6 linked regions of the Homo sapiens genome follow. The protein of the gene in region 1 purifies or fractionates together with the protein of each later gene. This does not show direct contact. Each region holds a gene or a part of one and is shown in the gene's direction. Other genes may lie near its edges. The genes, in order: HORMAD2, TBL1X, WASHC3, MCM9, CCNY and GAP43.

The links.
Region 2: the proteins of HORMAD2 (region 1) and TBL1X purify together in Homo sapiens (affinity purification with mass spectrometry; one large-scale study listed by BioGRID and IntAct). This does not show direct contact.
Region 3: the proteins of HORMAD2 (region 1) and WASHC3 purify together in Homo sapiens (affinity purification with mass spectrometry; one large-scale study listed by BioGRID and IntAct). This does not show direct contact.
Region 4: the proteins of HORMAD2 (region 1) and MCM9 purify together in Homo sapiens (affinity purification with mass spectrometry; one large-scale study listed by BioGRID and IntAct). This does not show direct contact.
Region 5: the proteins of HORMAD2 (region 1) and CCNY purify together in Homo sapiens (affinity purification with mass spectrometry; one large-scale study listed by BioGRID and IntAct). This does not show direct contact.
Region 6: the proteins of HORMAD2 (region 1) and GAP43 purify together in Homo sapiens (affinity purification with mass spectrometry; one large-scale study listed by BioGRID and IntAct). This does not show direct contact.

The regions. Positions count from the first base shown.
Region 1 is NC_000022.11:30,173,566-30,178,403, forward strand, and holds the end of HORMAD2 (HORMA domain-containing protein 2), read left to right. Parts: intron 1-2,497; coding exon 2,498-2,602; 3' UTR 2,603-3,510; downstream 3,511-4,838.
Region 2 is NC_000023.11:9,466,868-9,472,093, forward strand, and holds part of TBL1X (F-box-like/WD repeat-containing protein TBL1X), read left to right. Parts: intron 1-5,226. UniProt on the Homo sapiens protein: F-box-like protein involved in the recruitment of the ubiquitin/19S proteasome complex to nuclear receptor-regulated transcription units. Plays an essential role in transcription activation mediated by nuclear receptors.
Region 3 is NC_000012.12:102,054,981-102,060,206, reverse strand, and holds part of WASHC3 (WASH complex subunit 3), read left to right. Parts: intron 1-5,226. UniProt on the Homo sapiens protein: Acts as a component of the WASH core complex that functions as a nucleation-promoting factor (NPF) at the surface of endosomes, where it recruits and activates the Arp2/3 complex to induce actin polymerization, playing a key role in the fission of tubules that serve as transport intermediates during endosome sorting.
Region 4 is NC_000006.12:118,829,836-118,835,061, reverse strand, and holds part of MCM9 (DNA helicase MCM9), read left to right. Parts: intron 1-5,226. UniProt on the Homo sapiens protein: Component of the MCM8-MCM9 complex, a complex involved in the repair of double-stranded DNA breaks (DBSs) and DNA interstrand cross-links (ICLs) by homologous recombination (HR).
Region 5 is NC_000010.11:35,527,927-35,533,152, forward strand, and holds part of CCNY (cyclin-Y), read left to right. Parts: intron 1-2,046; coding exon 2,047-2,104; intron 2,105-2,197; coding exon 2,198-2,317; intron 2,318-5,226. UniProt on the Homo sapiens protein: Positive regulatory subunit of the cyclin-dependent kinases CDK14/PFTK1 and CDK16.
Region 6 is NC_000003.12:115,621,573-115,627,380, forward strand, and holds the start of GAP43 (neuromodulin), read left to right. Parts: upstream 1-1,937; 5' UTR 1,938-2,117; coding exon 2,118-2,147; intron 2,148-5,808. UniProt on the Homo sapiens protein: This protein is associated with nerve growth. It is a major component of the motile 'growth cones' that form the tips of elongating axons. Plays a role in axonal and dendritic filopodia induction.

The DNA.
Region 1 (4,838 bases):
AGAAGCAGATGATGAATTCCAATTTGGGCAGACTGCACTTGAGTTTTCTTTGGAATACCCATGTGGAGACTTTTAGTCGGCAGTTGGATACACACATGGATCTGAAGTTCAGAAGGAAGATCTAGGCTGTAAACATAAATGTGGGGGTCTTTGCTTATGAATGGTAATTGATTCCTAGAAGTGGATGAGATCACTCAGGGAGGGTGTGGAGAATAAGGAGAAAGACAGCCAAAGACAGAACTTTAGGAGAACATTCAAGTAACAAGCATTTTTAAAGGGAGCGAATAAAGGAATAAGTGATTAAAAAGAGTCATTTAGAAGAAGGGATCCCTTCTAAAGCTTCCCAAATACTGCTACCAAATCAGCTGGCTATCCTATTTGTGCTTAAGGCAAAGCCTACTTTTTGGCTCCCCAAATGGAGAATGTGTTACTAAACCAAAGATGGAAAGTAGGGCAACATCATATACAGAAAGCATATCTTCAGGGCTTTTTTCAGATACATATGTGGATACTCTACTCCTGAGGCTCTATTGGTAAACAGATCATAGTAGCGTCTTGTTAGTCTGCATCAAGAAACACTTAATAATTAAAAAGAAACACTTTAAAAAGCTGTATGTTTAAAATATAATATGAAAAGTATTAGAAGTCATTTGATGATCATCTGATGTTCAGATCAACCAGATAATCTTTCTAGCCTGCCTGATGAGTGGCCTTTTGCTTGGCTTGTTGGCTTTGGCGTCAAGTGTACAAACTCAGCCAGTTGGAATACACCTGAAAAATGTTTCTCAAATGTTCCTTTGTGTGGATAAATTTGTTGGTTTATATAGTGTGTATATGTTATTTGTCTATGTTAAGAAGTGTCCCCTGGCTGATAACATACTTGTTTTTCAGCCCACAAATTTTCTATGAACCATTGAGAGTTCCCAGGCCTCACTATTACCTTGAGATATTGAAGATATTTTGACTTACTGCAATAAAATTACAGTTCTGCAACTTGTAATTAAACTTTGGATTTATTTGAACAATGAAAGAAAAAAGAGAACAAAACTATTAAACCATCAGGTCAACTGGTCAGTTGAGAATTCGTACACTCATCTTCTCTTCTTTCATGTGTACCCAGATTTGATAGAAGTGAGGATAGTTTGGTTTGAATGGAAAGCATGGCCAAGCAACAAGCTAACTTTTACCAGATACTTTTTTCCTACAGTCAAACCATAACAAATTCATCTCCTAGATAACAACTTGGTTTTTGTGCTTTGACTTTTTATGTTGCTATTTCCTTTCCTTTAGAGCAGCCCATTTCAAATTTTTACATGTAAGTAAACGAGTTATTTGAGGGGCTGCTCTATATCTTTTCTCAGAGTTTTGTATAGCTACTGTCTTAGTATAAGCCAAAGGGAATTTGTGGTTCCTGAGATCAGAAATTCAACTGCTTTCTAAAACTGAAGGATGAATTAGTACTTAAGTTAGCCATTTTGATACACAATCTTTGTTCCTAAATGACACTTAAATGTTTTATTTGCACTTCCACTATTTTGTTATAGTAACATATCAATAATAATAACATGCCTCTCCTACGAAGGACAAAAAGGATAATTTTAGAAACTCTACTATATATTCTCACAAGTCTTGCTTTAAATATATATATTATATATTATATTATAGAATATATTATATATAATATAATATAGAATATATATAATAATATATATAATATAATATAGAATATATATAATAATATATATAATATAATATATATATATATATATCTTATTCCATTTTCCTTCCAAAGAAAAAACATAGGACATGGAAAAACCTTTCCTCCCATCTAGTGGCTGGAAAATATATAAATGTCCTCTATCTGTTTTTTGGAATTCCAGGCATTAGGGATTGTTTGGCAGATTATAATATATCTAATTGTTCACCCAGTTAAGCAAAAATAAGTTCTAAAATCTTCACCAAAGCCAAACTCAATGGCAAAATATATATCTATAATGATTCACTAACCAACTTCCCTTTCATCAATAACATACTCCTCAGTAGAAAGGTTATGGTTCTTCTTAATTCATTATTCTGAACACACGATAGAAAACACAAGGCAGTATGTCTCTGCTACCTGAAATTGGGACTTAAATTACATTTGCCTCTAAAGCAGTCAGTGCCCCAGATCTCTCCTAAACCTTAATTGCTTCTTGTTGGCCCCACAACTTAACAACCTTCTCTCAAGAGTTGGATGTGTTGAATTCACTAGAGAGAGCCAAGAAACTGTCTCAGAAACTGGCTGCCTCCAAGGGACCTCAGCTCCTGAAACTTGGAATACCAGACTCTGATACTGGCAGCAGGGCCTCTGTGCAGGGCCAAACCAGCCCACAGGAAAGCAGGTTTGGATCCGTTATGCAGCTTGAGGGATTAATGCTTGGTCTACCTGTCTTATATATGTCTTGTGCAGATGTCAAAATCTCTGCTGAATTGTGCCTCTCTCTGGTGATTCTCACAGATTCAAAGAATGAATTTTGTGTGCAGTCAGCAAAGTTCTGAGTGCTCCAGGAAGAAGAGGAAGGTCAGTGAACCAGTGAAGGTCTTCATCCCTAACAGAAAATGAAAGCTAAATATTCCTTCTACATTTATTTTAAAATAAGTTTATTTTGTAAAAACATGCATAAACTGTCTTAGCAGGAAAGTACATTCCTGTTACCAAAACCTTTTTCTAAATTTTTTGCTCAATTTTTTTTGTCAGTTGCTAAGTGCTAAATTACTGGCCAGGTAGGACGCGAGTCCACTTTGCCATAAGGAAAGCGGGTCAATAGGGCTGCCTCTGGATAGCATTACTTCAAAGCTGGGTTAGAGATGAGGCACCTTTTATATTATATTTGTAAAAGAACCACAGCAGCTATTTTGGAAAGAAGCTGTTGTTCTCAAAGGAAAGAAGGATTTTTTTGCATAATTAAACTCTTCAGCTATTTAGACTACTGTGAAATGTTTTGACTTGTTGTAACCTGTATACTGGAATCCCTCTCTAGCTGTATTAAAAATTCCCACAGAGTTGCATAGGATGTGTGGAGGTGCTTATCCAGGTGTGATTTATGTGTTAACCTCAGTCACGAGGTTGATCAGCTAATTGTGGGACCAAAATGTGCCCTGCCTCAACTCTGGCCCCAGGCCCTGTTCTGTTATCCAATCCGAAACACGGAACATGCTGCAATTCAGGAGTCTGGCTCTCTTCTTAAGACCTATATTAAATATTTCCCAAGAAGCACTTCAGTTTATCAGTCTGTAACCTGCAAATGATGCTATTAGTTCCCTCCTTATTCTGGAAGAATTTGGATAGACTTAATTGATGATTAGTATGAGATGAACAATAGATGACTTAAAGTGTTATTTCTATTATTTATATAACATGAGATTTAGTAACTTATAAAATGAGGTTTAGTAATTTAATTTAAATGGATAGGACCAATAAGTTAAATATTAAGTGTGTGACTTATGGTTAAATAAAATGAAAATACAAGACTTTTTTTTTTGCTCATCTTTTTTCACACAGAAAGGAAAAGTTTCTTTGCTAACATCAGTATCTCTCCAAATGTAAAGTGTAGTGAGAACATCAATAATTGGAGTGCTTGTTAAAATATGGATTACTAGGCCTGCCTCATTTCTACTAAATCAAACTCTCAGGTTCAGGCACTGTGGAAAACTCTCCAGATTCTAACACACACACACACAAAATGGAGAACCAATGACCTCTGACCCAGACTAAAGTGAATCTCTGTAGGAAAATCCCAGGGAGCCTGCCTGTTCAGCACTGCCCCTTGCCAGACTCTCAGCCATTCTTGACTATCTAGGGCAGCCTACCAAACTGGGGTCTTAAATTGGGCTATAGCACTGGGGCCTGCAGGCAAGGAGGAGCATTTCCCCTTCTTTTAGCATATTAAGTGGACTCATGAAAGCCTGCTCTGCCACTGAAAGAAGGAGGGGAAAGGTATTGGACTTATATCCTTGATAGAATTGTAGACTGAGTCACTATAATTTCTTTGAAGAGAATCACATAAAGAGATTAGCTGTCTAGTAGAGGAATTAGGTTTGTGTCTCTCCAGAGAGAAGGTCTAAGAGCAAATCAGTAAAGGCTATAGGAGATCAATTTATAAGGAGGAGCTTTTTTTTTTTTTTTTTTTTTCAACATAATCTCAGCTCACTGCAACATTGACCTCCCAGGCTCAAGTGATCCTCCCACCTCAACCTCCGGACTGGCTGGGACTACAAGCATGTGCCACCATGCCTGGCTAATTTTTGTGTCTTTTGTAGAGATGGGGGTTCGCCATGTTGCCCAGGCTGGTCTCGAACTCCTGACTTCAAGTAATCCAGCCACCTCAGCCTCCCAAAGTGCTAGGATTACAGGCATGAGCCACCACACCCAGCCCAGGAGGAGCTTTTTAACTCTACAATTGTCAGTTGTCAAAATTTTGAGATGGGCTACCTTGTGAGTTAGTGAGCTTGTCTTCACTGCAGGTATTTGAACACAGAGGAGCTTCACAAAAACTCTATAAAGACTCTCAAAGCAAATTAGCACTACTGAGTAATTAGTTAATCTGGATTTCAAAAGGAACTATTTTGCTTCAAGGGGAATTGAGCTCATAATCTGTATTTGTGATAGTCATAAACTTAGCCTAAGGCTGACAGATCCTTTAAGTCAAAGTCTCAAATCTGAATCTATCTAGAAAATTTCTATAGTGATTTTATTATCTCTATTAACACCTCTTTCCCCATCTGAACAGTCTTTATCACTGCCAGTAGGTGGACTGTGTGTTTCTGAGGCAGTGTGTATGTGAGACAACAGAGAAGTT
Region 2 (5,226 bases), on another chromosome or scaffold:
TAATGCAAACAACAAAAGTTGTTCATCACTGGATCACCGGCCCTTAAGGCGATTCCAGCCCTTAGTAGAACACACACCTGTAGGGCAAATATGGAGATTTGTGGTGTAGTGCTGCCACCCTCGCTCCCCAACTCTCAGGCATTTTGCCCCTTTACCTCAGAGAACTTCTCTCTGTCAGTGGTTTTAAAGAGGAAACAGTTTGCAAAAATAACTTTATTGTAGACATACTTAGAAGTGAATGTTTCAATTTCTGGAGTTTTCCCATCAATTATATCAGTACCACTGGTTCTGTACAACATCATCTTAGTTAGAAGATTTTTTTTCACCTTTTAAGGTGACGAACAGAGGCGGGAAAATGGTCCCTGCAGAGGGAGGCCATCTCCAGCAGGTCCCGAGGGTCAGGAATTCAGATTATCCGATCTACTCCTGCTGGATAGGAGCACACCTCCGCTAGAACCTGGGTCCGGCCCCCTCCCAGTTTTCTGCAGGGCGTCCAGATTCCGGTGCTCTGCCCCGCAGCAGTGCCCTGTGGGCCTCCTGGCTTAGCTGATCAGCACAGCTTCTCTGCCCAGCGAGGCAGGACCATCCTCCCACTGCTTTCCTGATGCCTTGGATTTGCTTTTTTTCCTCCCTTAGGAAAAGCAAAAAAACCTAATATGCTACATCCGAGAAGTTGTTAATCTTTCACTACCACATGCATTGAAAAATCAGTTCCACCCAGGAAGCAACACTAAAGGCATATTGTAAACACTTTTTTTTTTTTAGTTGGAAAGATAAACTTTTTTCCCCCATAACTATTTTTAGTTAGCCGGAGACTGGACTCGAGTTTTTACCTCCGGTCTTGCCCCCTCCACTCCCGCCCTCACTTTCTGTGGGGCTCGACCACATGGACCATGCTGGCCAGACTGGCAAACATGAAACCCACCAGAACCAAAAGAAAAGCTGGATATGGGAAGGGGCCGAAGAAGTCCACATGTTTCTAAAGGGCAAAGAGCCTAGGCTGAGGAGAGACGTTTCAGATCTCCAGGGGAGAAAGACAGCCGTTAAGGAGTCCGCCGGGCTGCTGCCTGCCTGGCCAGCGGGAGCCTGACTTCAGATGCCTGCGCCTCCCAAGCTGGCCCCCTCCCACACAGCCATCGCCATCCAGTATTTAGGGAGAATCCACCGCATGCCTGAAGGTTGCAGAAGTGAATTGGAAACCGTTACAAATGGAATTGGAACAAATTTAAAGTTAAGATGGAAGAGAGAATATGTTGAGTTTTCAGAGGAAGTCGGGTACTGCTTCCTTTTCTTGTCTAGGTTTGTTCTTGTCCGATGGGATCAGAGAGATTTGAGATGGGGCATGATAGGCGGCGGGTTCAGGAGAAAGGGAAGCTTTAGAAATGAAGGTAGAAAAGATGCTTGCTTATTGGAACAGTATTTTCAACGTTGAGCTCTGGAATGTTGCAGCCAACTAATGGTTCTCATTTGGGACAGTTTTGTCCCCCACTTTTGAAGGGAGCATTTGCCAATGTCTGGAGACATTTCCCTTCCTGCAACTGTTAAATTAGCAAACAGGTTGAGCCAGCTGGGTGTGGACCTGCATTTTCCTCGTGGAGGCCCTCTTCCAAGTGTCAGTAGGAAAAGGGCTCCCAGAGTGTGGTCCTGCTGCGGGACCTTGGCCCCCACGTCCAAGTGAGCCCCAGAGGTGCCCCAAGCCCTGCCTGGTCATGGGGAATCTGGGCTCCCGCTGAACTTGGGCGCTGGGGACAGCTATGAGGGAAACCTGGTTTGCAGCTAGCTTGCCGTGCACTGACTGGAGCTTTGGGCAAATCAGTGAACTTCTCTAACATTAATTTTCTCATTGAGAGAGGAGGTGGGTAGGAGTATATATATATATATGTAATTATATATATAGGGGTCGGGTAGAGGGAGAGAGAGATTTCCCAGGCTCCTTGTATTAAAGGAGATAGAGTTATTATATTTCTCATTTAGTTTTTATTTATTTGTTTATTTTGAGACAGTGCAATTATTATAGCTAGCTGCAGCCTCAACCTTCTGGGCTTAAGCAATTCTCCTGCCTCAGCCTCCTAAGTAGCTGGGAGTACCAAATGCGCACTACCATACCTGGCAATTTTTTTATTTTTATTTTTAGTAGACACAGGCTCTCACTGTGTTGCCCAGGCTGCTCTCAAACTCCTGGGCTCCAGTGATCCTTCCTCCTTGACCTCCCCAAGTGTTGAGATTACAGGTGTGAGCCACTTTACTCAGTCGACCGACATAGAATTATTATAATGCTTGGAGCCTAACATGCCTTTTTTGTTTGTTTGTTTGTTTTTTCTGAGACGAAGTCTCTCTCACAGCCCAGGCTGGAGTGCAGTGGTGCGATCTCGGCTCACTCTGCCTCCCGGGTTCAAGCGATTCTCCTGCCTCGGCCTCCTGAGTAGCTGGGATTACAGGCATGCTCCACCACACCCGGCTGATTTTTGTATTTTTAGTAGAGGTGGGGTTTCACCATGTTGGCCAGGCTGGGCTCGAACTTCTGACCTCAGGCGACCCTCCCGCCTCGGCCTCCCAAAGTGCTGGGCTTATGGGCATGAGCCATCGCGCCCGGCTAGCCTAACATGCTTATAGTTTCCTGTTTTCTGAAGTTGGGAATTGGGTCTGGAAAGGTATCACCATCAGTCACGATGGTGTCTAGTAGTTTGCTTTGTTTTTTTCCTTATCTTTTCCCTCTTACATTTTAGGGCTGTATCTATATAATTTTATTATTTAAATTACCATATGGTAAGTTTGTCTCTTTGGGTGCATTATGAGTCTTGACACATGCATAGATTGGTGTGACCACCATCATCATCAGGAGAGAGAACAATCTCCTCAGCCCAGAGATGTTCATGGCTCTGTCTCCCACAGTTCCTCCACAGTCACCCCCCCCAGCCCCGAATCTGGGGCACCCAGCCATCTGCTCTGCTCTGGAAGTCTTGGGGATCCCATCTGAATGTAACACATGGTGGAATGCCTTAGGTGAATCCATCCGCTCTTCCAGTACCACCTTTGCCTCCTCTCTCTGATGACACATGAACTTCATGCCTTTGTGTGCTTTGGCCAACCGCTTTTCTTAGAACAGCACATTTTGCACTGTAGATGTTATCACAAGCAAGGAAAAAACAGCTTTGCTCCTTAATGTAAGAAACCACAGTGGAAAAACATCAGGTGTGTTGTTGAGGCTGCTAAAGCTTTGCTCCTTTTTAAAATTTTTTAAAAATTTTTCTGGATACGTAGGTGTATATATTTATGGGGTGCATTAGATATTTTGATATAGTCGTGCAGTGTATAATCACATCATGGAGAATGGGGGTATCCATTCCCTCAAGCACTTATTCTTTGTGTTACAAACAATCCAATTATACTCTTTTAGTTATTTGCTCTTTTTTCTTTTATTTTGAGACGGAGTCTCACTATGTCGCCCAGGGTAGAGTGCGGTGGCGCGATCTCCGCCCGCAAGTTCAAGCGATTCTCCTCCTCAGCCTCCGGAGAAGCTGGGACTAGAGGCATGTGCCACCACACCTGGCTAATTTTTTTGTATTTTTAGTAGAGATGGGTTTCACCATGTTGGTCAAGCTGGTCTCAAACTCCTGACCTCAGGTGATCCACCTGCTTAGCCTCCCAAAGTGCTGGGATTACAGGCGTAAGCCAGCACGCTCGGCCTATTTATTTCCTCTTTGTTCTATGCCAGTTAGTTCTTGATGCCTCATTGTTTCAGATGGGACATTTTCTAATGTCGTGTTTTTGTTTTTGTTTTTTTGAGACAGAATTTCATTGGTGTTTCCCAGGTTGGAGTGCAGTGGCATGATCTCTCCTCACTGCAACCTCCGCTTCCCGGGATCAAGCAATTCTCCTGCCTCAGCCTCCCGAGTAGCTGGGATTACAGGCATGCACCACCATGCCCGGCTAATTTTGTATTTTTAGTAGAGATGGCATTTCACCATGTTGGTCAGGCTGGTCTCGAACTCCTGACTTCAGATGATCCACTCGCCTCGGCCTCCCAAACTACTGGAATTACAGGTGTGAGCAACCATGCCCGACCTCTGATGTCCTTTTAGAGGATGTTACCCTCACCTTTATTGCACAGTCCTACCAAAAGGTACTTCATATGTGAAATGTATCAGAAGGTTATAGTCATGGCTTTAGTTTAAAAACAGGATACATGTTCATTAAGGACCTTTGCCGTTTTCCCAATGGGTTAATCACGTAAATATAAAATAGGCTAAAAATATCAAGTTGTTTTTGCCTTTGTTGTAGAAATAAAAAAATGAATTCCTACATCTGTGTTTCTATGGAGCTGCTAACCTGTGTTTTACTCTGGGCCATATGTCGCTTTCTGTGATCTCATGACGTGGCATGTTTTCTAATATAATCCTTGTCCTGGCATTTTGGTGACTTTTGTCCTGCCTGAGGTGGTCTACCTGGTTGTGTGAAGTCACAGAACCTGTGCATGTCCTACCGTGTAGAGTTAAAGGGCTGGATGAGTGGCCTCAAGCCTTTTCCTCCCTCCCAGGTGTGAAGATTTGGTTTGGAAGATGGACCCTGCTTCAAGGTCTGGGAGGCCATGTTTTTTTCAGACTGGTTAAGGATGACGGTTTTATGTTAACTAAACATTGGGATCAAGTGACAGTTGTTTATGTCCGGTGCCTAGAGTATCAGTTTTCCCATGATTAAAATAAGCGATATTTTGGTAAACATTGATAAGTTAGTTGCGCATTTTAGTTCAGAAACCCACAGCGAGTCAGAAGGCGCTTTGTGCTGCTGGGCGCCTCTGAGTGATTCCGGGGAGTGCGGCAGTTCTCCAGCCCCAGGAGACCCTGTGAAAGAAGCACAAACAATGCTCACGGCAAAACTCACAGTGTTTATTCTTGACCTGGGTGTCTGCCTTGAATTCTTGTCATTTTTCCTATCGTGGTGGATGTAGCCGGAATGCTTTAAAGAAAACATGAGAGTTTTTTCTGCCTGTTTCCCTTGAGCCTGGAACCGATTATGACCCCAGATAGCCTGCACAGGGCTCTTTCCTTTCTGGAACACCTGCCCAGGCTAGAATATGGGAGTAGGGAGGAGGTGAGGCTCTCTCCTGCCCGGTAACCTTCCCGGCCAGCTCTCCAAGACGCTGAAACCTTCCTTCGGGTCTGTTGAAACTGCATCCCCAGCACCATCATGTCGGAGCAAGAAGAGAAGGGCATGTGTCCCCTTTAG
Region 3 (5,226 bases), on another chromosome or scaffold:
TTAAGGAAAGAGCAAAGTAAATTATGGGACTTAGATATTCACAAGTAAGTCTGTTGAACATTCTGTCTTATGTAAGGTATAGCCTTAGCAATTAGAGTTTTTGTTAAGTGTGTTACTACTATTAATAAAAATTGCATGGAGATGGGAAAACTATTTTTTACTTGTATGAAATTCCAGTTATTGTTTTGTCTAATTATCAACATTTCTTCTGCCTTCTAAGACAAAGTAAAATATAGTAATTGGTAGAGTAAGGGGCTTAATTCAATTTAGTTTTATATGTTAATGGCCAGAAACTAGGTGCTTGCTTCCAGTCAGTTTTATTTCGTTCCTACTATCTCTCTAAATAATTTAGGATATAAAATTGACTGAATAAAAACCAGTAAGCCAAGGTTTTCACCCTTCGATTTTTATACCAGGGCAAGATGGAGAAGTATCTGGAAAGGGACTGTCCCAGGATTACTAGCAGAAAGAAGCAAATACTCTTATCCCCATAGCCCTTATCATCAAGCTGAAAAATAAAGAACAAAGCAACAAGTAAACACACCTATGAAAGCAACTTGTTTGAGCTGTCCTGAAACAGGGATAGCCCTTCACCTTTGTAGTGCCTAATGGTTCTTGAATGAGAGCTGTTTACTGACAACTAGATCAAAGAAAACAATAGTCATCTCATTTATTGATAGATTATGATCAAAGCCTCATGAGTCACTCTTTAACCTCCTCCTGTTCCTGTCTCAACTTCTCTGCAGCTGTTCTGGCTGTATCTGTATTCTAGTACTTCTTTGAACTCTAGAGAAAAGTTTGTTCATCAAAACCTCATGAAGTTTAAAGGTAGTCTATTGCCTTTTGTCCTTTTTCAAAAATCTTATTTCTTTATTTAAATTGACAGGTAAAAATTGTATTTTTATGATGTACAACATGATGTTTTGATATATGAATACATTGTGGAATGGCCAAACCAAGCTATTTAACATAAGCAATGCCTCACGTACTTACTTTTTTTTGTGGTGAGCACACTTAAAATCGCCTCTCTTAGCAATTTTCAATACAATATATTGTTATTAACAGCAGTCACCATGACATGTAGGAGATCTCTTGAACTTATTCCTCCTGCCTAACTGAAATTTTGTATCCTTTAACCGCATCTCCCCAATCCTCTTAACCCCAAGCCCCTGCTAACCACCATTCTACTCAATATTTCTATGAGTTGTACTTTTTTATCCTCCATATATAAGTGAGATCATTCAGTATCTGTCTCTGTTTGACTGGCTTATTTCATTTAACACAATGTCTTCCAGTTCATTTATGTTGTCACAAATGACAGGATTTCATTCTTTTTTAAGGCTAAATAGTATTCCATTGTGTATATATACCACTTTTTTTAATCCATTCATCCATTGATGGACACTTTTGATTCCGTATCTTGGCTATTGTGAATAATGTTGCAGTGAACTTTCAAGTACAGATGTCTCTTGAATGTACTAATTTTACATCCTTTGGATATATACCCAGAAGTGGGATTGCTGGATCATATAGTAGTTCTATTTTTAATTTTTTGTGGAACCTCTGTACTATTTTCTATAATAGCTGTACTAATTTACATTCCCACCAACAGTGTACAGAGGTTCCCTTCATCACATATATGGTTTCCAAATATAGTCTCCCATTCCATAGGTTCTCTTCACTCTATTGATGGTTTCGTTGGCTGTGCAAAAGCTTCGTAGTCTTTTAAAATAATTTTTAAAAAATAATTTAAAATCCAGATTCTACAAACTTCTTAGTGTGATGTAATCCCATTTATTTATTTTTGGTTTTGTTACCAGTGCTTTGGGGTTTATATCCAAAAAAAGTCATTGCCCAGACCAATGTCGTGCAACTTTCCCCTTATGTTTTCTTCTAGTAGTTTTACAGTTTCAGGTCTTACATTTAAATCTTGAATCCTTTTCGTGTTAAATTTTTTTATATGGTAAAGGATGAGGGTCTAATTTCATTCTGCATGTGGATATCCAGTTGTCCCAAAATGATTTATTGAGACTGTTATTCTTAACATCTGTGAAAAGTATGTTTCTGTAACTGTCTTTTCTGTGTTCTTAACATCTTTCTCAAAAATCAATTGACTTTAAATGCATGGATTTATTTCTGGGCTCTTTATTCTGTTTCCTTGGTCTATGGCTGTTTTGATTACTGTAGCTTTGTGGTAGATTTTCAAATCAGAGAGTGTGATCTCTCTGGCTTTGTTTTTTTGGCTTAATATTGCATTGCCTGTTCAGGGTCTTTTGTGGTTCAGTATGAATTTTAGGATTTTTTTTTCTATTACTGTGAAAATATTATTGGAAAATTGATAGGGATTGCATTGAGTCTGTAGATTGCTTTGAGTGGTGTCAACCTTGTAACAACATTCATGTTTCCAATCCATGAACACACGTTATCTTTCCATTTATTTGTGTCTTCTTCAATTTTTTTCATCAATGTGTTATAGTTTTCAGTGTACAGATCTTTCACCTCACTGGTTAAATTTACCCCTATGTATTTTTTTTGTAGCTATTGTAAATGAGATTTTTTTTCTTTTTTTTCAGATAGTTTACTTTTAGTGTATAGAAATGCTACTGATTTTTGTATGTTGATTTTATATCCTGCAGCTTTACCAAAGTAGTTTGTTAGTTCTAACAATTTTTTGGTGGAATTTTTTATAAGATTTTCAATATATAAGAGCATGCCATCTGCGAACAGAAACAATTTCATTTCCTTTTTTCCAATTTCAATGCCTTTTATTTTTCCCTCTTGTCTAATTACTATAGCTAGGACTTCTAGTACTATGTTGAATAGAAGGGGTAAGAGTGAATATCCTTGTCTTGTCCCTCATCTTAGAGGAAAAACTTTCAGTTTTCACCATTGCGTATGATGCTAGCTGTGGGCTTGTCATAAATGGCCTTCATTGTGTTGAGCTAGATTCTTTCTATACCTAATTTGTTGAGAGTTTTTATCATCAAAGGATGTTGAATTTTGTCAAATGCCTTTGTTCCATCTATTGAGATGATCATACGGTTTTTGTCTTTCATTCTGTTAATGTGATGTATCACCTTTACTGATTTGCATATGTTGAACCATCCTTGTATCCCAGGGATAAATCTGACTTGATCCTGGTGAATGACCTTTTTAATGCGCTGTTGTATTCAGCTTGCCAGTATTTTGTAGAGGATTTTTGCTTCTATGTTCACTGGGGATATTGACCTTTGATTTTCTTTTCTTGTAGTGGATTTGTCTGGCTTTGGAATCAGGATAATGCTGGCCTCCTAAATTGAGTTCGAAAGTTTCCCCTCCTCTTCAGTATTTTGGAAGAGTTTGAGAAGGATTTGTATTAGTTCTTCTTTAAATGTTTGGTAGAATTCAGTAGTGAAGGCATCAAGTCCTGGGGGTTTTGTTTAGTGGGAGACTTAACTACTGATTTGATCTCTCTACTTATTATTGGTCTGTTCAGATTACCTATTTCTTTATGATTTAGTCTTGATAGGTTGTATGTGTCTAGGAACTTATCCATTCTAGGTTATCCAATCTGTTGGCATATAATTGGTCATAGCAATCTCTTATGAGCCTTCATATTTCTTTTGTTTTAATTGTAAAGTCATGTTTATTGGAGTATGAACTTATATGCAGTAAAATTTACCATTAAGTATGAGATTGGACAAATGCATAATCATACCATAATCAAGATGTAGAATAGTTGTAGAACAAGATATAGAATCACTCCAAAAATTCCCTCATGCTCCTTTGCAGTCACCCCTTTTTTATCCCTAGGAATGCATTGTTCTGTTTTCTGTCAAAAGGGCCAAATTTAATCACTGCAATGGTCTCCAGTACTGTGGAAAAATTCCTGAGCATACAAAACACACAAACCAAGTTTTTAAAAAATGAGATACTTTTAAAAATGTCTTTAGCATATCAACCAAATGAAGGTAGCTTCATATTTTACTACAGATGCTCAGATATCTTAGGCAGAATTAAGTCCACCATTGCCATATATATGCCTCAACAGTAATATTTAAGAGTAGACTGTAAAAATAAACTTACAATCTTTAGAATCGTCAAAACAATGGGATTATTAAATGACCTTTGTAAGTTAAAGCAAAGTTTATAAAGTTGTCTTACATAGTTGTGAAATAGCTAGTCTAGTTAGATAGAATTAACGTCTCCTAAAACTGACCTGCTTGAAGAACTACTGTAGGTCATGTCTTTGTAGGTAGAGTATGTGAACGAAGATTAAGTACTTGCTCTTTTGTGTTAACACTGTGTCAAGTTTCAGACTGGGGCTGGTTGATAGAAAAACTAGTTAAAAAAAACTATTTTAAATAATGGAATTGAATTTTATGGAAATTCTCTGTGGCACCAACTCAACCACAGGACAGAAACAAAAAATTCTCATCTAAACATTCCTGTAGAAAATTGGGACCATCTAAAAATTCACCCCAGCTACCACCATGAAAGAAACAAAGAAAGCAAAAACTTCTGTTCTGAATATATCAGTGGTCCCATATTCAGATACTTCTTATCTACTTGAAAAGCTTTGATGGGTGGGGCACGGTGGCCCACACCTGTAATCCCAGCACTTTGGGCCCAGGTGGGCAGATCACCTGAGGCTAAGAGTTCGAGACCAGCCTGGCCAACATGGTGGAATGCTGTCTCTACTAAAAATACAAAAATTAACTGGGCGTGGTGGTGCACACCTGTATTCCCACCTACTTGGGAGGCTGAGGCAGGAGAATCACTTGAACCTGGGAGGTGGAGGTTGCAGTGAGCCAAGATTGCGCCATTGCACTCCAGCCTGGGTGACAGAGCAAGACTCCATCTCAAAAAAACAAAACAAAAGAAAAAAGAAAAGCTTCGCTGATTCTTTCAAACACACATCAGACCTTAAGTTCATTAGCATTTATAACGTCACTGAGCTGCATTGAGCTCTGTGGCTGAAAAAGCCAATTCTTTGTATTTCTGTGGTATCAGTTGTAACATCTCTTTCGTTTCTGATATTATTTGAATCTTCTCCTTTTCTTAATCTAGCTAAAAGTTTGTGGATTTTGTTTTTCTTTTCAAAAATCCAGCTCTTAGTTTCATTGATCTTTTCTATTGTTTTTCTAGTCTCTTTCATTTTTTTCTGTTCCGATCATTATTATTTTTTTCCTTCTACTAACTTTGGGTTTTATTTGTTCTTCTATTCCTTCAGTTGTAACACTAGGA
Region 4 (5,226 bases), on another chromosome or scaffold:
CAGAAAACTGATACTGGACCCCTTCCTTACACCTTATACAAAAATTAAGATGGATTAAAGGCTTAAACGTAAGACCTAAAACCATAAAAACCCTAGAAGAAAACCTAGGTGATAGCATTCAGGACATAGGGATGGGCAAAGACTTCATGACTAAAACACCAAAAGCAATGGCAACAAAAGCCAGAATTGACAAATGGGATTTGATTAAACTAAAGAGCTTCTGCACAGCAAAAGAAACTATCATCAGAGTGAACAGGCAACCTACAGAATGTGAGAAAATTTTTGCAATCTGTCCATCTGCCAAAGGTCTAATATCCAGAATCTACAAAGAACTTAAACAAATTTATAAGAAAAAAAAAAACCACATCAAAAAGTGGGTGAAGGATATGAACAGGCACTTTTGGAATGAAGACATTTATATGGCCAACAAACGTGAAAAAAAGCTCATCATCAGTAGTCATTAGAGAAGTGCAAATCAAAACCACAATTAGGTACTATGTCACACCATTTAGAATGGTGATCATTAAACAGTCAGGAAACAGATGCTGGAGAGGATGTGGAGAAATAGGAACTGTTTTACACTGTTGGTGGGTGTGTAAATTAGTTCAACCATTGTGGAAGACAGTGTGGCGATTTCCTCAAGGATCTATAACCGACATACCATTTGACCCAGTAATCCCATTACTGGGTATACACCCAAAGGATTATGAATCATTCTACTATAAAGACACATACACACGTATGTTTATTGCAGCAGTGTTCACAATAGCAAAGACTTGGAAGTAACCCAAATGCCCATCAATGATAGACTGGATAAAGAAAATGTGGCACATATATACCACGGAATACTATGCAGCCATAAAGGATGAATTCGTGTCCTTTGCAGGGACATGAGTGAAGCTGGAAACCGTCATTCTCAGCAAACTAACACAGGAACAGAAAACCAAACACTGCATGTTCTCACTTATAAGTGGGAGTTGAACAATGAGAAAACATGGACACGGGGAGGGGAACATCACACACTGGGTGGGGGGCTAGGGGAGGGATAACATTAGGAGAAATACCTAATGTAGATGATGGGTTGATGGGTGCAGCACACCACCGTTTCACATGTATACCTATGTAACAAACCTGCACATTCTGCACATATATCCCAGAACTTAAGGTATAATAATAATTTTTAAAAAGTATAAGTCACGTTGTACAAGCAATCACCAGGACTCTTTCCGTCTTGCAAACTGAAACTCTATACCTGTTTAAAAAAACTCCCATTTCCTCCTCCTCCCAGCCCCTAGCAACCACCATTCTACTTTCCGTTTCTATGGATTTGACTACTCTAGGTATTTCACAGGTAAGTGGAATCATACAGTATTGATCTTTCGTAACTGGCTTATTTCACTTAGCATGATATAGTTAAGGTTCTTCCATGTTGTAGTATGTGTTTGCATTTTCTTTCTTTTTAAGACTGAACAATTTTCCATTGTGTGTATAGACCGCGTTTTCCTTATCCATTCCTTTATCTATGTACGCCTGGATTTTCTCCGCCTCTCAGCTGTTGTGTGTGTAGTGCTGCTGAGAACATGGGTGTGGGCTTCATTACTTAACAGTGGCTACCTTACCACCATCTAAAGCAGATTTCATGCTCAATCTAAGTGACTTTATACAACTGAGAAAATTTACTGGGCCTTTGTTCAAGCTTTTTTCAATTTTGCTTCTTACTGTCTGGGGTCTAGAAGCAATTTTTTTTCCCTAACACTTCAAAACCTCAAATTTCTGAGATGTCTTCATTGCTTTTCATTTCTCTTTGAAGATTGGTCAGTTTTTTCCTGTGCTCACCACGTGCCTGCAATGCTTTGCCGAAGGAAGTTTTTCTTGTTCGTGTCAGTCTGATGTGGATTGAGGGTGGTGTGCTCTGCTCCGACAATGATTCCGGGCCCAAGCTCCTTCTCTCATGTGGCTCTCTGACTCCAGGGCTTTATCCTCTTCTGTACTCCACTAGTAAAGAGAGAGAAAAAGATTGCACAGGAAGGCTTTTAGGGGCCAGACCTAAAAGTGGTTTATGTTCTTCTATCTTTACTTCATTGTCCAGACTTGGTATCATAGCCCTACTTCACTGTAATGGGAATAGGAAATACAATCTTGCTCTATTCCCAGGATGGAAAGAAAACAAGGTTAGGTGAACATATAGCACCTGGTGCCACAGGCTGGAGATAAATTTGGAAGTACCAGCATATAGGTGGTGATCAAAGCCATAAGTAAAGATGAGGATCATCCCGTAAAGGGAGTAATGGGAGACCTTCACAAAAACAAGGGCACTTTCTTAAGGGTCTTTACTGGTAAAAATAACTTTACAATGTTAGGTTACACAAGTTATTAGTAGAACAGTTACTACTGTGTTTGTAGGACGTTTAAATGTGTGCATTAAATAAATGTAAAAGTAGTTTTTTCAGAAATTGGAATGTCTTTACTTCTTGAAGTTTAATACAAAAGAAATATGTATCAGCATCCTTTTATGACAAAGCCTGTAAATGTAAAATAATGCTGAAGTTCAGAAATACTGAACTAAGTAAAGATTTATTTTTATTTGTCGTTTAAATTATGTACATTTATTAAGCATTTACTATGTACCAGGCAGTGTGAGGATTATAACAATAAATCACAATCTCTCAAGGAAGACCACATTTAGTAGGACAAAAATAGGCTGGGCAAGGTGGCTCACACTTGTAATCCCAGCCCTTTGGGAGGCCAAGGCGGGAGGATTCTTGGGGCCAGGAGTTCAAGACCAGCCTGGGCAACATAGCAAGATTCCATCTCCACAAAAAATTTTCTGAAAATCAGCTGGGCATGGTGATGTACACCTGTAATGCTAGCTACTTGATAGGCAGAGACAGAAGGATCACTTGAGCCCAGGAGTTTGAGGTTGTAGTGAGCTGTAATTGCTCCACTGCACTACAGCCTGGGGAACAGAGTGAGACCATGTCTTTTAAAAAAAATAAGTAAGGCAAATAAGTTGATGCCGAAAATCCCAGGCAGAATCGGCAGTCTGGAAGTAAAAGCGCATTGATTTTGGAGCCCAGCAGATCTAGGTTTGAATCTCAGCTCTGCTCCTCTCAGTGTAACCTTGGGGAAGTTAATATTCCTGAACTTCTAGTTTCCTTATTTCTAAGTTTGTGATAATAGCACCTACCCTTCAGGTTGCTGTGATTAGGGATGATCTTTGTAAACCTAATGCAGTGCTTGCTTGATATTAAAAATGTAGTTATTTTTATTAATATTGTTGAAGGTAGAGTTCATATGGGATAGAAAAATGAGTTACCTTACAGTCTATGAATTCATTCATTTAGTATTTAGTGAGCCACTACTACGCACTGTATACTTAGGATTAGATTGTATGTATGTATTTGTGTTTGTTTTCTAAAGCCCCATTTAGTTTTTTTAAAAAATGTTTGTATCACAGGTCTGTACCCACCAGGTTTACATATGGTCTTCCCCACTTTCAAATGCCCAGAGACCACCCTGTCTGTCCTGGCACTGTCTTCATCCTCCCTCTTTGCTACAGGGATCTGCCTGACTTATCTCTCATAATCTCCTCTTCCTCTGCCCACTCCCGTATTTTCCTTGCTCCTATTTCTGCTGACTTCACCTCAGACAGCCTTTTTTCTTTGCATACAAATTTTTGTTAGTTCTCCCCACCCCCAACTTTTTTTTTTTTTTTTTTTTTGAGATGGTCTCTTGCTTTGTGAGTGCAATGGCACAAGCTCGGCTCACTGCAGCCTCCACCGCCCAGGCTCAAGTGATTCTCCCAACTCAGCCTCCCAAGCAGCTGGAACCACAGGTGTGTACCACCGTGCCGGCTATTTTTTGTATTTTTAGTAGGGATGGGGTTTCACCATGTTGACTAGGCTGGTTTCAAACTCCTGAGCTCTGGCGATCCACCAGCATGATTCTTAAGCTTAAGCTTTTCTAATGGAAAAATTAATTCCCCCAGTTACCTTAGGCATAATTTACCACCTTCTTTCTGTGTTCATTTTTCTTCTCATACATTGGAAAACTCTCCAATTATATCCCCTATAGATCTCCAGGTGTCCCCACCGAAGTTTCTCCCTGCTGATACTAATGCTGATACTGACACCAGCACTCCTTGCACACTTACGATCTGGCAGGCACTCTGCTCCACCTCTTCTTTCCCCAGCAGTTCTGTTGTAAACTAATTGGCAGCAGAGATCAGATATGTACCTTTTTGGATTCTCAGTACAGCTTTTTGCACAAAGGAAATGGTCTATAAATATTGGTTGGTCAGAGAGAGGATGAATGAACAATTCATTTGACCTAGCATTAAAAATAATTTTATAAAAATTATGTCATATGCAATTGTATTTTGTTTCATTGCCAGTGTTGTGGACATTTTTAAATAAGAAATACAAATAGTCCGTCTTCAGTGTGGGTTAAATGTGCTTTTGTGGGTTACTTAGGAACCGCTTATTACATTGTTCTATGGCAAATTATATTCCAAGTTCTAAACAACTGTCTTTACAAAAGCCATTTTGACACATAAATTATAAGATGTGGACTGTCCAGAATTTTTCCTTGTCACTAATTTTTTAAAAGGGAATTTAGTTTTTGGTAAAAATGCCTTGTTTATCTTTCTCTTATTTATTTAATCAGTGTCTTCTTGTGCCACTTGCCACAAATAAAGATTCTCAAACATTTTCAGCCTCAGGGAATGAAGTAGCTGCTAGCTAGAAATAGATCAGGGATTAACAAATGTAATACATGTTGCTGATGTCATAGGGCTGTGACTTGGGAGGCAGACATCCCACTATAACTAAAAATGGGCATCAAGTGCACAGCATACAAATTTACAGATTCAAATTTTTACATTTGTTATTGCCAATGAATATGTCACATTATTTTGAGAACTAGCCCATCATTAATTAGTTTAAAAACAATATCTAAGTTATGTCACATCCATCCCTATCCTGCCACGCTCCATTTAGGACTACCTTGTCCCTCTACTGGACCATTGTACTAGAGCCCCTACCCTGCATCCTGTCCACAGTCCTTTCCTGTCCAACCCACTCACCAACCCAGTCCTCATCAGACTTCCCTTCACAATGGCTCCTCAAAAACTCAATGCCAAATCAATCATATTTTCTGATTTCCTTTCCCTCCCTCTTTCTCTCTTTTTTGTTTCTTTCGTGTTTAGAAAAAAAATCAAAACAAAAT
Region 5 (5,226 bases), on another chromosome or scaffold:
GTCTACTTCTCAGAGGATTCTCCAGAATCCCCTTTCCTGAGTCGTCTTAGCTCGAGCTCTTAATTCTCATTTATATTTTTAGACTCTGTTCTCATTTTAAAAATTACTTCAGGCGAATGTTTCTCTAGGGTGCTGGATGCTTTCAGGGGCTCTCATTCTCCAGGAAAATTGAATGGGGCTCAACTGCTGAGGAATGGGGTCCTGGGCCAGGTTCTGTCTCTCCTGTAGCATCTTGAATGCCTCATAGAGATTCAAGATTTGGTTTATTTGAAAACTCAGTAAATAAGGTGAGGGAATCCGCTGATTCTTTGTAGCCCAGGTTGGTATCAGAGTGTAACCACGTGCACCCAGAAGCTGCTTTTTGCTCACAGACTACCTGCTGGGTTGAACCTTTCTTTCGCTTGGGTTGATCTGTGTCTGTGCTGCCTGTGTTCATGCAGGCAAATGTAAATGAGCACAGGTGTGAATGCCCAGAGCTTTAAAAATAATTGCTGTGGCTGAGCGCAGTGGCTTACGCCTGTAATCCTAGCACTTTGGGAGGCCGAGGCAGGCGGATCACGAGGTCTGGAGATTGAGACCATCCTGGCCAACATGCTGAAACTCCGTCTCTACTAAAAATACAAAAATCAGCTGGGCCTGGTGGCGCGTGCTTATAATCCCAGCTACAAGGGATATTGAGGCAGCCTCTACAAGGAGGCTGAGGCAGGAGAATCGCTTGAACCCGGGAGGTGGAGGTTGCAGTGAGCCGAGATTGCACCAGTGCACTCCAGCCTGGTGACAGAGCAAGACTCCGTCTCAAAAAATAATAATAATAATTGCTGTTGTGCAAATGTAGGAATGAAAATTGAGCTGTTTTGTTAAGCTCTTTCTCTTTTATTTTTACACAGATGGTAAATTTCTAAAGCAGAAATTGTAATGTTTGTCATGATAAGTGTGTGTTAGGGACAGGTCTGTAGCCTTCTGAAGTTCTGAAGCCTGACACTGAAGCACAGACTATGGAAATTACATGCAGCTAGCCAAAAGCTGTCATTTCCAAGTTTGGTTGTTTAAAGAAAATTTTTTAGGCAAAACTTAAATTTCATATAACAGATGAAAGTAGAGCTGTCACTCGTGAGGTACGGAGGGTCCCCGCAGAGCCCAGCGGCCCACGGTACTGTGTTCACAGTGAAAGCTACCTCTTTAAGTGGTTCTGTGCACGTACCAGCCTGGTAAGAGCTAACTGTTCACATATAGGTTATTGACTAAAGACTTTTTATCTGTCACCTGTTGTTTTTCAGTATAAAATTGTGAAACTTAAATGAAGTAGTGACGTTGCGTGTTGTGAATAATCAGACTGATCTCTAGGATACATTGATATTCATTCTTACCCTGGCGCTTCTTTCCTATCACCCACAGTATGTTGATGGCTTAAGCAGATCCAACAACCTTTGCTTGGAAATAAGATGTCAAATTTAAGTCATTTGCCTAGATTCGATTCATTTGAAAACTCAAAAAATTAAAATTAAATTTTTACTTAATTTAGCTAAGTGTGGTTTATAACCTTTATTTCCTTGGGCTATTTTAATCATAAGTGATTAAGTATTGCACCCAAGAAAAATCATTATTCATGAATAACCATTTAGCACTGACTTGTGTTTCTTGAAATAGTTGAATTGGCTGGGTGCAGTGGCTCACACCTGTAATCCCAGAACTTTGGGAGGACAAAGCAGGTGGATCTCCTGAGGTCAGGAGTTCGAGACCAGCCTGGCTAACATGGTGAAACCTTGTCTCTACTAAAAATACAAAAAAAAAAAATTAGCCGGGTGTGGTGTTGTGTGCCTGTAATCCCAGCTAATTGGAAGGCTGAAGCAGGAGAATCACTTGAACCCAGGAGGTGGAGGTTGCAGTGAGCTGAGATGGCGCCACTGCACTCCAGCCTGGGCAACAGAGTGAGACTCCGTATCCCAAAAAAAAAAAAAAAGTCATTGAATTAAAATGTATTTTTGTTTTATTTGAATGACATTCTTGCAGAAAGTAAGTTTCATTTTCTATTATTTTCCCTACCAGGGACCCAGATGGAAGGATGCTCTTAGATATTTTTGATGAAAATCTTCACCCTCTTTCGGTAATCTCCTCCGTGTGTTTCATGAGATGATTTAATTATTTCTCTTTTGCTCCAATCGGGAGATCAGTCATCTGAAAATATTTTCTTCCCCAGAAATCCGAAGTGCCACCAGATTATGACAAACACAACCCAGAGCAGAAGCAGATTTACCGGTTCGTTCGGACACTGTTCAGTGCTGCTCAGCTGACGGCTGAATGTGCCATCGTCACCCTGGTGAGTGCCCTCAGGATGGCCACACCCATCCCCAGCCGAGGTGGTCCAGGGCCCGTTCCTGTTACTCAGCGGAGTGAGGTTGGAGCAGGGAATCCTCACCAGGTTACCCTGTGGACACCGTGGCATAAGCTTCAGTGTTGTCGTTCTCCTGGGAGAATAGAGGATAGATATCCCGGAAGAGATTGTGAAGATTGTTCTGTAGCCCCCACCTAAAGTCATTTGTGAAATCACGTTCAAATCCAGGAAATGCTGAAATTAAAAATGCAGGTAAGTAAAACAGTAGGGCTAAGAGAGTGGTTATATGGCCAAGGTACTCCCTGTATACGTCTAGGTTTCCTGGTGTTGATTCCCTACAAAGATTGTAATAGTATTAGTAAGATATGATGAATACATTCATCTTATATGAACACTTGTCTAGGAAGGAGTGTGTATATTCCTAGCTTCTGTTTTGTGACTTTTGAGTAAATGTGTCTGCAGGATATTCAGAGACAGTATGGAGGTAACGTATATTTTAAGACTCAAGAAAAAATAAAAATTTGTTTTTACAGCTGGGCTCCATGGCTCACGTCAGTAATTTCAGCACTTTGGGAGGTCAAGGTGGGAGGATCACTTGAGCCCAGGAGTTTGAGACCAGTCTGGACAACATAGTGAAACCCCGACTCTACAAAATTTAAAAGTCAGCTGGCCATGGTGGCACGTACCTGTGGTCCCAGCTACTTGGAAGGCTGAGGTGAAAGGATCACTTAAGCCCAGGAGGTCAGGCTGCAGTGAGCTATGATCATGCCACTGCACTCCAGCCCGAGGGGCAGAGCGAGACCCTGTCTCAAAAGAAAAAGTATTCTTACTTGGATTCTTAAAATGTTATGCACTATTTAGGTCAAATCTCACTTGGGAAATAGATTTAACAATGGAACCCTTTTTGTCACTGACCTTTTACATTGTGTATAACTTAGATGAGAAATTAGCTTTGCCTGTGCATGAGCTATCCTGGAGATCAGAATACCATTTCCTGTAGTTTCTGAGAAGAGACAATTGTCTAGTAGAAGCTTTACAGGCGACCGAAGGACTCTTTGTGTCTCCGCCACATGAAGAGCTGTGTGCTCCGAGGCTAACTGAACAGAAACCCTGTTGGCTTGTTGCTCATTCATTCATCTGTTCATCTGTTTGTTCATTCCTTCTCATTGAACTCACAGCCTGAAGGATAATAGAACAGACAATCAAGTAATCATTAGATGATTAGGAATGATTGCAGGTTCCTATGTCATAATTGAGTAATGTATGTACTGCCCAGCTTTGTTCCTCAAAGGGATTTTAAGTTCTAACCAAAACACGCAACAGGGCAACAGGGTTGAGATTTTTATGTAGGGAAATTCAGTGAAGGGAAAAGAAGATTAAGAAAAGCAGATGAAACCATAGATGAAATTAGTACTGGAATACATGCCATGAGGAAGGATTTATTTTGAAGTTGCTGTAGATGGAAAGTGGCGGGGATTTTTTCTACCTTTAATTCCTAAGAAAAATATGGCCTGGCTGTGAAAGATAGTGCCTTCCTGGTCGGGATTATTATTTAGCTTGAAGGATGTTCAGGGCCAGCATTTAAACCCCACAGCTCACCCAGTGTCTGCCTTGAGAGAACATCTAACAGGCATCCCTTGCTGCCCTCTGCATCACTCACCAAAGGTGACAGGGCTGATGAGTTCATTTCTTTGGAGTAGTGTAGGACTGGCACTTTTCTTGTGAATAATTGTAACTATTGAAATCTTCATTTGTCCTATGAAATAGACTGGTGTTGACCAGGATACCAGTTTGTATGGGGGTCTTGTTGGTTGCAGCTGGAGAGGAGCAGCCTTGGAGGCCTTCGTGGTAGGTGCAGCCCTGCAGCCCATCCTCTGGTCTCTGCTGTCTGCTGAGGCTCATCAGCGCAGCTGCATGCTTGTGGGTAGAGGGCACAGAGACGTGTGCCTTGAGCAAGACTCTTGTAGGATTGTTCTTCCCTCCTCGTGTTCCCTAGAGTTAGAAACAGTCATTCAGGACAAGTCTGGCCTGGAGTTGACAGAGATGCATTCATTAAGCCCTTATTTTCACTGGGCATGTGTTTGGCATCTTGGCATGCTGCTCAGCAGGCAATGGAGGAGGAAGAGCAGTTAGCCCTGGCCGTGCTTCCCACACGGAGTAGGACTGCAGCCTGCTGTGGACAGAGAGCCTACAGGCCCTTCAAACACCCAAACCTACTTCACCCAAAGCAAATATTTCACAGCTTAATCAACTTCCTTTTAAAAGAGTAACAATAACTTAGATCACTAAGTGTATTTTTTAGCCTCCTAGAATATGCTGAAAGCTCTCCTATGGATACTGCCACATGAGGAAATTTGAAAGGGAGTGAGGTAATTGATTTGCACCTTGATGAGTTATGTAGAGGCCTTTGTGGTGTACCTGCAGCAGCTGGAGGAAGCCAGGCCTGCAGTGAAGTGGGCAGAAAGGCCTTGGCATCCAGCTGCCCCTCCACGAGGCCCTTCCCTTCCCTCAGGAGTCACCCAAGCTGACTGATCCTGAGAACCATGCATGGCACCCACTTTAGTCCTATGCGGTACTTCGACAACATGAAAAGCTCATTGCCTGTCTGAACTGGGATCTTCTGTTGGAAGGATGAGAAAGCCAGAGGCCAAGGCAGAAGGAGATATATTGGAAGGTCCAGGCAGGTCTCGCATATCCCTTGTCCTGTAGGTCTGGAAGGACATCAGGCTGTAGAATGAGGCCCACTGCAGGTTTCTCTTCCTTTGGGCTGCTTCTCTCACCTTTGCGCACTGCTGTGGCTCTGGGGCCTTAATGTGCAGGTCGGCTTTCTTGCTTCGGATGGGATGTGGCAGGACAGTATTAATAGCTTTCCCCACCCTTCATCACCTCTCCGT
Region 6 (5,808 bases), on another chromosome or scaffold:
TCCCCAATCCCCACATTCTCTGCCTCCTCCCTTCATTGCTCTTTAGCCACTAGCAGGCTAGGTAGGGTGTTCCTAATCTGCAACCGGAATGTTTCTGGTAGGAGCCATTTCTCACCCACTCTTTGTCCTCTTTTATCACTTAAAATCACGGAAGGCTGTTCTGAAAGCGGCTGGGCTCCTTGTAACATTAAAAAATTATTAAACTCAGAAACTAATTCTGTTTTTTAATCATAAATATGAAAACTAGGAAGCAAACTGAGAAGAATGAAAGACCAAATCAGCGGATCTGAAGCAGGCCACTCTCAGGAAGACTCCTGAGGAATAATTAAGGCTAATTTTAAATATCACCTCCTGGGTATCATCATCACCATCGTTCCCAGGTACCTGTCTGAGATAGTCCATTTTGAAATAGATATACCTTAAATTATGTTAAAATGTACTAAGCACTTATTGAGCTCAGTGATCCTGAAATATGCCTAACAATAAGCTGCCTAGTTGCCACTTATTAGCTAGGTTTATGTCTAGGAGGTCTAGGAGGGACTATGAAGAATATGAGCTGTTTAATTAGGGGTACTTGTCATCACTAATGAACAACAAGAAATAGTTTGAAAACTTCTTTGAGATATTCACTTGCAAATGTCACCCGAATTTCAGAAAAGTACAGTCTCTGGAGTAAAGCTATTATACACTCAGAGAGACTGTTGTGCTTTGCATGCGTTATATCATTTAGTCCTCAAAACATGTTGTCAAGATTGGCATTATTATCTCCATTTTAAAGATGAGAAAATTAGGTGCAAAGAGCTTCAGTAACACACTCAAACTCATTCAACAATAAATAACTAAAAATTGTGCTATACACACTTTAAGAGTCACATGTTCCTCCCCCAAAATTATGAAAGGCCATAGAAGGAATTCAAGAAGTAGGCTTCATGACTTATCGTTTCTTCTCATCTCAGATGAATTCACTTTAATCTCTCATGCCCAAATTGTAAAATATCATTTTGATCACCGTCAATATTACACAGACCTGTTTGAATGTGCTCAGCTTTTTCAGTAAAATTAGAAGAAACCACAATTTACAAACAGGTATATGTGCATTAAGGAAAAAACAAAAAACTACCATGTGATTTTAGATATGGATGCCAATTCTTAAACATTGTTTATTATTTCTGAGCTCAAGTGCTTAGAATGTTTAAAATGCAATATATTTATGTGGATTTTTTTCCAGGATATTGGAACATATATAAAATATGCTTGTGCATATCTAAGCTTTGTATTTATTTCAGGTTATATGTATACTGAGAAGAATATATAAACAGTGTATGATATTTACATGTTATTTCATTTTTTGAGGGAAATTAACCTCCACAATTATTAACTATGCATAAAATGTAATGGCAGATATGACTTATATTGTATAGGACTGACTACAATTCCTCTTTAGAAATAGCTGTTCTTTGCTTTTATAATACTAGGAAAAGAGGAAAAGAGTTCTTAAAGAAATACAAGGATTCCTCAAGCCCCTCTTCCCTAAAACATGCTCTATCATATCTCCTGGATTGACTGGAATATCCTTCTCTGCCCCCACCCCATCACCCTCTCAATGCAGTGGAAAAGTCGGTGGGTAATTGGGTCCAGATTGGAGGTGTTTAAATATTCATGAGGCTGGCAGGGGACTGGGAGGGGGCGACTGTCTAGAATGGGGGTAGGGGCTGGGGGAAGTGATTAGTCACTGAAGGCTAGAGAACAATTCCGAGAAAGAGACGGAGAGAGAGGGAAGAAAAAGACAGATAGATAGATATTGGGGGGAAGGAGAAAAAAGGAGAAGAGAGGGAAGAGAGGACAGCGGAGAGAGAGCACCAGAGAGAGAGGGAGAGAGAGAGAGAGCGCTAGAGAGAGGGAGCGAGCATGTGCGATGAGCAATAGCTGTGGACCTTACAGTTGCTGCTAACTGCCCTGGTGTGTGTGAGGGAGAGAGAGGGAGGGAGGGAGAGAGAGCGCGCTAGCGCGAGAGAGCGAGTGAGCAAGCGAGCAGAAAAGAGGTGGAGAGGGGGGGAATAAGAAAGAGAGAGAAGGAAAGGAGAGAAGGCAGGAAGAAGGCAAGGGACGAGACAACCATGCTGTGCTGTATGAGAAGAACCAAACAGGTAGAGCTAAAGATTTTTTACTTCTTGCTGTTGTGAAATAACCCGAGTACAGTATTTCCCCGTAAAGGCAAACAATTTTTTTACTGCTTCTGCTCTGGCCGTGGTGCTCGCGCTTCCTTAGCATATGGTAACTGATGGTTGCATCCCAGCTTTTATTCTTTTCTGTCTTTCATGCTCTGGTTTTGGAATGCTGCTACTAATTAGGGTGAGGGTAGAAAAAACATGCCTGTTTGGCTAGAAATAATTTTTTTTTTTCTTATTAGTGAATGCTCAGCATTTGAGGTCTCTGGTCTTGAGGGTGTGGACGTAGAAAGGGGTGTGGGGGAGATGATGTGGGCTCTACCTACAAGATGGGGAGGCATTTCTTTATATTATTTGCAAAAAAGCAGGGTTGAGGAAATAATATTCAGAACTGAGTATTGCCTCTCTGTCATACAATTTTCTCACATGTGCTGCGGAAGATGCCTTATTTCGTGCATGCATGAGCTTCGAAGGGGCGCAGGTATTTATGGAAAAACGTGCAGGTCTTATTTATTTAGTATTTATTTTTCAATGAATGAATGAAACTGTGATTTGATAGATTTTTTTTTTTTTTAAGAGAAGCTAAGACAACTGGGGCTGGGGGAGAAATTGGCCATGCAGAAGGAGAAAATCCCCTTCCTAAGATCAGCAGCCGATTGTGCACCAGCTGGTCGGAGGAGAGGGTGGACCACGCCCCTAGGAGCTCCGATGGGATGGGAAAGACAGCCGGGTATTACCTGTTGGAAACCAGGTCTTTTCTCTTATCCCCTTCCCTTGCTTCTTTCCTGGGATTGTCAGTGACCAGAGACAGGCTAACATCCTGGATAATAAGTATGGTGACTCATTTTCATCAGGAAGAGGGACACATCCAAGATTAGCAAGAATCAGAGCCCCTCCTTCCCTCCCCCACTGCCCAGGTTTTACAGCCATTTCCAATTGCTCGCTTATTTCTTGAAAGACATTTTAGAAACTTGATTGGGGTGAGAGTGGGAAGGAATGACGAGTGTGGTATTCCGCAGCAACCGACCATGCCATGGCAGTCTCCAAAAGAAGCTTTCAAACATTTGTTGGAATGCATTTGAGTGATTTTGGCAAAGGTTAAAGAGAAAAATGGGTGTGGGATACGGGTGAGTGTGTGCGTATGCTTGACTGTGGTGGGGGTGGGGGTGTGGTGGGGGCAATCTTGGTCAAAGAAGCCCTTCGCAGACTGATTGCCTTAGGGGTGGGGTGCAAGAGATGGAATTTGGGTATAATTTCCAGTGCAGGTATTGGAAATTGGGCAATTTGTAATACACTCCCTGAATCCGAAGGGGGTGGAAGAGAGTGGAGAAGAAACAGCCTGCCAGCTTAGCACATTTAGCCAGCGCCCTGGAAGGAAGGGTGGGGAGTGAGGATGAAGGAGAAGGAGCAGGAAGAGGATGGGAGACTGAAGCAGAATGTCAGAGCAGTGGGAGTAGAGATTTGGCATAAATAAATAAATAAATAAATAAGCAGACATCCTGGATTGTGTGGGGCTATTTGGGGGAAAAAGTCGGATAGTGGGGGATTGAGTTGGGGGCGGTATTTGCAGCATCTCCTGAAACTGCCCTATGGTTACAGAGATTGATGCTTCCATTGGCTCATTTTATCAAACCAGGGCATTTTCTCTCTGTGTCCTCCTTCATTTTAATATATAAATGTAATAAATACAGGTGTCTGGGTTAAGAACACTGTCAAAGAAAAGTCCTGAGGTTATTTCACTGGTGAGCTGGGGAAATAACATTTAGGAAGGTGGAGCACTAAGTAAGCCAAAGCCATCCACTTAAAAAGCTTTAATTTTGGAAAGAAAAATATTCAGGTTCATAATTTGTTCCCACCCTATGTGTACATATGCAAGTATACATACATCTCCTTTAATAAAGGAAATCATGTATGATTTTTAGAAAAGGAATTAGGGCTAAAGGAATTCCCTTCCCAAAATGAAGACAGCTGCCTTCCCTGGGGCTCTATCTCACCAACAGCCCCAAGCATTCACTCTGATGTGCAAAGTGATGAAGCTGAAATTGTGTTTAGAGTTGTAGAAATTCGCATGTAAATGTATACAGCATCCACATACTTCATATGCTACAGTTGCATGTGTAAGTGGTTTCCACATGCCTCTCTGTGTTTTAGCATCATTTATATTCAAGAGAAAATTAAAGGTATAGAAATTGTCCTACTTTGCTCATGCATTTTATAAATGTGTACTTCTGTGTGAAATGGTCATGTCTCTTATAAACCACTGTTGTGTATCATTCACATTAGCCAGTATTTAGGATACCATTCAATCAGACTAAAGGAAATGGTGTATTCAGGGCGTGGGCTCACACTACACTGACTGGCATTTATGTAGCATGAGTACTTAAGTCTCACGCAGGTTGCCTGCTTGTGGATGAAATTCTGTATCATTTATGACAAAATCCAGTGGTGCCCATCCTTCTGCTGGCATCTATTCATCATCGTAGTACTTAACAGGGAATAAAACAAGGGCAAAAACCTGCAAAGGTCTAAGCTCTGCCACACCCATAAAATCCAGCAGAAACGTGGGAGGGGGGCTGAAGGGCTTGCACTTCCTTCCTCTTCCACTTGAGCGGCATAAAGAAGCAACCTTGGATTTCTAAGTTGGAATACATTGCCAGTGGGTGAGAAGAAAGCATAAATGATCTCTATTAGCCATTAGTTATCACTATAGATTATTATAGCAGGAAGAAGAGAATGAGAGTGGGGTAGAGATGAGAATATGGTAAAGGAGTGGGCAAAGGAGGAATAAAATAAAATAATCCCTAATATTGTATTGCCTTATGATTTTCAAATATCTTGGGGCTTACTTTAAATAGCTTAATTGCCATGTGTATTGCAGATGATTAAAAACTTGGCAAGGTGTGATTTATGTCTACAAAGCAAGAAAACTATGAGGTGTTTCTTTTGTTGAAAAATAATGACTTTAGTTTGTAATTGAAGTGTAAAGAATTTCATGCAAGCAAGTAGTCCCTCTACTCCCCAGCCCCCCATCCATGCCAATATCTGCTTTTTTCCTCATGCAACAAATAAATCTTATCTCTGAGAGTGTGATCTGTGGTTTAAAATTCCGACCTCTCTGCCTTTCCTTGCAGTGTTGGGAAGGTGTGGAAGGATGCTGCCTTGCTGCTTGGTGCAGGCGATTCTTCCTAGTGATAAATTGGATTCCTCCCAAATCTCTCTGAGCCACACCCAGTGTCACTCAGGGACTTAGTGAATTAATTAAGCTGAGCCATTTTACTTAATATAATTGAAGCTTCTCGTTCTTTTTTTTTTTTTTAATAGTGATTTTCACCACAGGTTTCCAAATTTAAACAGAAAAAATATTTGAAGGGCATTTTCTTTCTTTTTTCTTTCTTTTTTTTTTTTTTTTGCCAAATTATCTGGACTTGCAGAGAACCTTAGAAAATTCATGGTGAGTCTAGAAAGTGTTCATTTCTGGTGACTCTATAATTCCTTCTAACCCATGCCAGGGCGCATACACAATGAGCCCTGATCTCTCCTGCTGACAGAGTCTGTGTAACTCTCTTCCCCACCCCCTCCCCTACCAACCCATGCTGAGGCAACTGGAATAAGAAAATGCAGAGTTAATTTTCTTTCTTGC